2 linked regions of the Homo sapiens genome follow. The protein of the gene in region 2 purifies or fractionates together with the protein of the main gene of each other region. This does not show direct contact. Each region holds a gene or a part of one and is shown on either strand. Other genes may lie near its edges. The genes, in order: NEMF and CYP4V2.

What was found.
Region 1: the proteins of CYP4V2 (region 2) and NEMF purify together in Homo sapiens (affinity purification with mass spectrometry; one large-scale study listed by BioGRID and IntAct). This does not show direct contact.

The regions. Positions count from the first base shown.
Region 1 is NC_000014.9:49,797,198-49,801,024, reverse strand, and holds part of NEMF (ribosome quality control complex subunit NEMF), read left to right. Parts: intron 1-328; coding exon 329-605; intron 606-1,346; coding exon 1,347-1,389; intron 1,390-1,500; coding exon 1,501-1,550; intron 1,551-3,827. UniProt on the Homo sapiens protein: Key component of the ribosome quality control complex (RQC), a ribosome-associated complex that mediates the extraction of incompletely synthesized nascent chains from stalled ribosomes as well as their ubiquitin-mediated proteasomal degradation.
Region 2 is NC_000004.12:186,208,240-186,211,264, reverse strand, and holds part of CYP4V2 (cytochrome P450 4V2), read right to left. Parts: intron 2,401-3,025; coding exon 2,266-2,400; intron 2,173-2,265; coding exon 1,993-2,172; intron 797-1,992; coding exon 624-796; 3' UTR 1-623. UniProt on the Homo sapiens protein: A cytochrome P450 monooxygenase involved in fatty acid metabolism in the eye.

The sequences.
Region 1 (3,827 bases), on a different chromosome or scaffold from region 2:
AAAGCAGCAAAAGTTATGCAACTAATTTTGCTGTCTTGGTTTTTGGAAATACCCAACTAAGGCAGAGTTGTGGTTTTCATTGTTGAAAGGGTAGCAATGTCCAAGAAATTTATTGTGGTAAAGGATCTTGGAGATCATTTAGTTCAACCTATTCATGATACAGGTTATTCTTTTGTCTAAGAGTACCCTTTGGGAATGATCAGACACTTTTCTGTTGATTTTTTGGAGAAATATGGGAGAAACAGTGGAATATTTTTATGACATTTTTAGGAAATCACCTGGCTTGGTTGGTAGTCCCACACTGACTTTCCTTATGATAATTCTACAGATGGAGGTGACACGAGCAGTGATGAGGATAAAGAAGAACATGAAACTCCTGTGGAAGTAGAACTCATGACTCAGGTTGACCAAGAGGATATCACTCTTCAGAGTGGCAGAGATGAACTAAATGAGGAGCTCATTCAGGAAGAAAGCTCTGAAGACGAAGGAGAATATGAAGAGGTTAGAAAAGATCAGGATTCTGTTGGTGAAATGAAGGATGAAGGGGAAGAGACATTAAATTATCCTGATACTACCATTGACTTGTCTCACCTTCAACCCCAAAGGTAATTAAAAAATAAAATTTTACATATTATTGTGTAAGCTGAGAATGATGATGAGGTAATCCTTACAAAGATAATACCAAGATTGACATCAGTACTTTTACACTCCATTGTCTTAATACTTTTTCAACATTTGATTGGGTCTCTCTGCAAAGAAATTCCCAGGACCAGGGTAGAAAAATACAGTGCATATAGAGTGGCCAAACTAGATCCAAATAGAAACAAGTAAATGGTTATAAATGCTAAAAACATAACAAAGGCAATTCCATCAAAGAAATGTGTTTTAGTCTATATAATGTTTTGCAGATCATCAGGTGAATAGTCCATAGTTATAAATGCATAATTAACTTAGGGGTAATTCAGAACAGTCTAGGAGTCAGACAGACCAGTATTGGGTCTTAGGGTGCGTCCTTGGGAAAATTACTTTGTGCTTAAGCTTCAGTTTCCTTCTTGGTGAAAACAGAATGGTATCCCTTTCATAGGGATTTGGTGAAGGTTTCATGCGTGTATACCATCTGGCAGTGCCTGACACACAGTAAGTTTTCAATACACGTCACCTATTTAAAAATGTATATGGAAGTGTGGAGAGAGGAGCAATTTGGTTGTATGTTTTTCTCACTTCACCAAATTTGAAAATTTGTTGGATTGCCAGTACTTAAGAGTATGATATGGGAATGTTTTGGGACTTTGTAAATGCATGTCTTTTACAGGCTAGTAGAGACTCCCTTGTGTTTATTTTCATAGGTCCATCCAGAAATTGGCTTCAAAAGAGGAATCTTCTAATTCTGTAAGCTATTTTCAGTTTTATGAAGAACATCCGATTCTCAGTGAATAATTTTCTACTTTTCAAAAAAGTTAATAGTGATATTTGCATTTGCCTGTTTTTTTGTTTTAATAGAGTGACAGTAAATCACAGAGCCGGAGACATTTGTCAGCCAAGGAAAGAAGGTAAACACATCTGTGTTAATTAACTAAAAAGCATGTTTTTCTTTTTTTTTTAATTGATAGCTCAGCTACCACAGATTACTTAGCTGTTTAAAGACTTCCTTCATTAAATTTACCAAGATTTAGCACAAATGTTTAGTTTTTAATATTAAGCTCTAATACATTTTTCTGTTTAAGGGCCCTAATCTATAACTATAATCAATGAAATAGACCTAGTAGAGTAAGTCCTCACTTAACATTTTCCTTTTTTTTTTTTTTTTTTTTTTTTTTGAAACAGGGTCTCGCTTTGTTGCCCAGGCTAGAGTGCTATGGCGCAGTCATGGCTCACTGCAGCCTCAAACTCCCAGGCTCAGGCAGTCTCCTGCTTCAGCCTCCTGAGTAGCTGGGACTACAGGCGTGTGCCACTACAAAAATTTTTATAGTTTTTGTAGAGACAGGGTTTCATCATGTTGCCCAGGCTGGTCTTAAACCCCTGGGCTCAAGTGATCCTCCCACCTTGGCTGCCCAAAGTGCTGGGATTACAGACATGAGCCATTGTGCCCGGCCTTCACTTAACATTTTCTTTTTTTTTGAGATGGAGTCTCGCTCTGTCGCCCAGGCTGGAGTGCAGTGGCATGATCTCGGCTCACTGCAAGCCCCACCTCCCGGGTTCACGCCGTTCTCCTGCCTCAGCCTCCCGAGTAGCTGGGACTAGAGGCGCCCACCACCATGCCCGGCTAATTTTTTGTATTTTTAGTAGAGACGGGGTTTCACCGTGTTAGCCAGGATAGTCTCGATCTTCTGACCTCGTGATCACCCGCTTTGGCCTCCGAAAGTGCTGGGATTATAGGCATAAGCCACCGCGCCTGGCCCACTTAACATTTTCAATAGGTTCTTGGAAACTTGGACTTAAGGGAAACAGTGTGTAATGAAACCAGTTTTGCCATGGGCTAATTGATATAAACAAGAGTTAAGTTCCTCTGGCATATTTTTGGTCACAAAACCATCACCAAGCTTCTAAATAAAGACTGAAAACTCTTCTAATATTAAACGTTAAAATAAATGTAAACTGTATGTATATTTAAGAAAGATGAATGAAAGCGAGCAAGATAATTATTTACCCAATTTTTGGTAAATCAATGAGTGATGGCAGTTGTAGTGGTAGTGGGTTAAATCAAGGATTATTTGCAAAGTGAAAACTATAGAGTACCTCCTACTACCATGAGGTTCAAAAACAAAAATGTGGCACATTCATTAAACACTTTCATACTACATTGTTGATTGTTATACATTTGTATGACTATAGTTTATGAATTTTTGACAATCATTTTTATTAAGTCATTCATTCATTCATTCATTCGTTTTTCAACCGCTTATTCCAGTTAAGGGTCATTGGTGGCTAGAGCCTATCCTGGCAGGTCAGGGCAAAAGGCCAGAACCAACCTAGAACAGGATGTCATTCTGTTGCAGGGCACACATACCTGCACTCATTCATGCTGGGATAATTTACACACACCAGTTAACCTGACATGCGCATTTTGGGATGTGAGAGAAAACCTGAGTACCTGGTGAAAACCCACAAAGACATGGGGAGAACATGTAAACTCTGCACAGATGGTAGCCGTGGCCAGGAATCAATTTTGTTCTCATCAAAGTTATAACACAATGATGTTGAATGAAATGATGTTATTTGAGGACTAGCTCTAATAAGACCTTTTATTACATAAACATGTACAATAATGATTTCAGTGTATTACATAGACTAGTTCTAGGGTGATATTGTCAGGAATAAATATGAATACCTGAAATTAGGAAAGTTTTATGTAAGGCAGAATAGTTGATTTTTTGTTTTTTGTTTTTTTTGAGACGGAGTCTCGCTCTGTGGCCCAGGCTGGAGCGCAGTGGCTGCGATCTCGGCTCACTGCAAGCTCTGCCTCCCAGATTCATGCTATTCTCCTGCCTTAGCCTCCCGAGTAGCTGGGACTACAGGCACCCACCACCACGCCCGGCTAATTTTGTTTTTGTATTTTTAGTAGAGATGGGGTTTCACCGTGTTAGGCAGGATTGTCTCGATCTTCTGACCTCGCGATCCACCCGCCTTGGCCTCCCAAAGTGCTGGATTACAGGTGTGAGCCACCGCGCCTGGCCGATTTTTTTTTTTTTTTTAATAGCAGGTCTCAGGAAGCAAGTAGAAGCAAGGGAAGGGCGGAAGGGAAGGGAACAACTACTGTAGGGTGGGAAAGACTAAGCAAACTAAAGCACTCCAGGAAGAGGCCCTAGAACAGAATGGACAATAAAGCC
Region 2 (3,025 bases):
AATTGGACTGTGGATTCCTCTGTTGAGAAACCTGTTAGATGTTTATTTGGGTGCTGACACAATTAACTACTTTTGTGACCACAGCCAACTGTAACATCTATGGTGGTGATAAAAATAAAAAACTCTGGCCAGGCGTGGTGGCTCACGACTATAATCCCAGCACTTTGGGAGGCTGAGGCAGGTGGATCACTTGAGGTCAGGAGTTTGAGACCAGTCTGGCCAACATGGTGACACCCTGTTTCTACTAAAAATACAAAAAAATTAGCCAGGCATGGTGGCAGGCACCTGTAATCCCAGCTACTTGGGAGGCTGAGGCAGAAGAATTGCTTGAACCTGGGAGGTGGAGGTTGCAGTGAGCTGAGATCACACCACTGCACTCCTCCAGCCTGGGCGACAGAGTGAGACACGGTTTCAAAAAAAAAAAATAAAGAAAAAAGAAAAAAGAAAATACAAAACTCAAAACTTTTTCTTTGTTAGACTTGATGTCAAGATCAGTGGGATCAAGGAAAAATTAGGTCTAGGGGATTCAAGCATATTGAACTCATGATCTGTAAATTGTAAATGACAAGGATCTCTTAAAATAAAGACCTTTCTCATGATAAAGGCACAACCCAATAATATAGTTAGCGTTCATCTGCATTTCTCCTCTTCAACTTGATCCAGATGCCATTACTTGGACGAAGAATCAACTGTCCTTCTAGACCAAGCTCTTCTCTTTTCTGGTTGGATTCTATCCAAAAGTGCCTCAGGATGCACGAAAGAATGGTCTTTTCTTCCATCACAGCAAACTTTTGACCTTCAAATTAATGTAGATACCATCGCTTTAGTTATAGATTTACCCCAAATGTGAGAAACAAGAGGTCCTGTCATAGGAAGCGAGCCACTTTACATTTTCGCAGTAGGTGGAAGGAGAACCAGAATGGCTTGGAACACCTGTTAAAGATGAAGAGTCTTGAGTTTCCCTCCCTGATCCCACCTTGCACATCTATAGCTGGGGAGGATCAGAGAATTTGTACTCCAGCTGATCCAGATAAATCCTGAGCTCCTTCAAGCTTGAGACTCACTACCCTAGATTATGTCTTAGTGGGTCTTTCATTTACTATGGATTCACCAAAAAAGCTTCAGATTCACCCGTTTCACTCTGGCCTCATTTTACCGATGTCTGCATTTACATAAATGACAAAATGCTAGAGATACTAAAACCAAAAGGGTTTATAATGCAGGGTGGTGATGTGCATTCATTTTGCTTAAGTACTAGCTGGCCATATGGCAAGCATTTGCTGTTTTGATTTGCAAAATGAAATTCTTAAAAGCAATAAACACAAAAATTAGGTTAACCATAAGTAATCATTAATAAAGTTTTTACCACAATAAGTTATATTCTACTGTAATTAAAACTCTACAACATTTTGAAACTCTACCATGAAGCTAATTATGTTTTATGTTATGGGTAATTGTGTCTCTCTCCAAATTCTAAGCCCCCCCCATACCTTAGAATATGACTGTATTTGGAGACAGGTAATCGAAAGAGGTCAGTAAGTATAAGTGAGGTCATTGGGGTAGGCCCTAGTGTAGTCTGACTGGAGAGAAGATCAGGACACAGACCCACACAGAGGAAAGACCAAGTGAAGACATAAGGAGAAAATGGCATCTACAAGCCACGGAGAGAGGCCTCAGGAGAAACCAGCCCTGCCAACACCTTGTTCTTGAACTTCCAGCCTCCAGAACTGTGAGAAAATAAATTTCTGCTGTTTAAGCCACCCAGTCTGTGGTATTTTGCTATGGAAGCCCATGCAGGCGAATATACTAATATACCTTTTGACCGTAATATTTTAAAACTACAAAGCACAGTGAGGGAAAAAAGAAACCACCTATTTTTTTTTTAAGGCTGTTGCATATGGGCAATGTCACATCACATCTCAAAGAAATCACTGTGAGAAACCCACCATCAAGTGGGCCTGAAAGGTCAAACCAATTCAGATGGATACAAACCTATACAGTTCCTGGGGCCAGCAGAGAAGGGCACGTAGGCATATGGATGGCGCCCTTGTGCATTCTCGGGGAAGAACCGCTCAGGCTGGAACTCCTCGGGGTTGGGGAAGTATCTCGGATCTCTGTGCAATGCATAGGGAATGATGACGGCTTCAGTGCCTTTTAGAACTCTGTAACCTGCTGTCAAGAAGTAGTCAATACATTATGAGACCGGAGCAAGGTAGACATTAGAAAGTTTCCCTCTCCCTTCTACTTTAGGTATAGCATACTTACCCACTTCACAATCTTCACTAACACTACGGGCAAATAAAGGAACAGAAGGAAAAAGGCGAAGGGTCTCCTTAATAACACATTCCAGATACCGAAGTTTCTTCAGGTCTTCTACTGTAGCGGGACGGTCAGACTTCCCTGATGAAAGCAAGTAGATAAGATGACCTGAAAGAGCAGTGGGGGCTGGGGGTGCAGACATCTAAAAAGAACAGGTGGATCAAGGCATGGCATGCTAAATACCCATCAAATACCCAACAAAGAAGAACACGTGGATCAAGGCAGGGGATGCTAAATACCCATCAAATGCCCATCAAAGAAGAACATGTGGATCAAGGTACTGGATGCTAAATACCCATCAAATACCCTTCAAAGAAAAACACGTGGACCAAGGCAGGGGATGCTAAATACCCATCAAATACCCTTCAAAGAAGAACATGTGGATCAAGGTACTGGATGCTAAATACCCATCAAATACCCATCAAAGAACACGTGGATCAAGGTACTAGATGCTAAATACGCATCAAATACCCTTCAAAGAAGAACATGTGGATCAAGGCAGGGGATGCTAAATACCCATCAAATGCCCATCAAAGAAGAACACTTGGATCAAGGTACTGGATGCTAAATACCCATCAAATACCCTTCAAAGAAGAACACGTGGATCAAGGTACTGGATGCTAAATACCCATCAAATACCCTTCAAAGAAGAACACGTGGATCAAGGCAGGGGATGCTAAATACCCATCAAATACGCATCAAATAC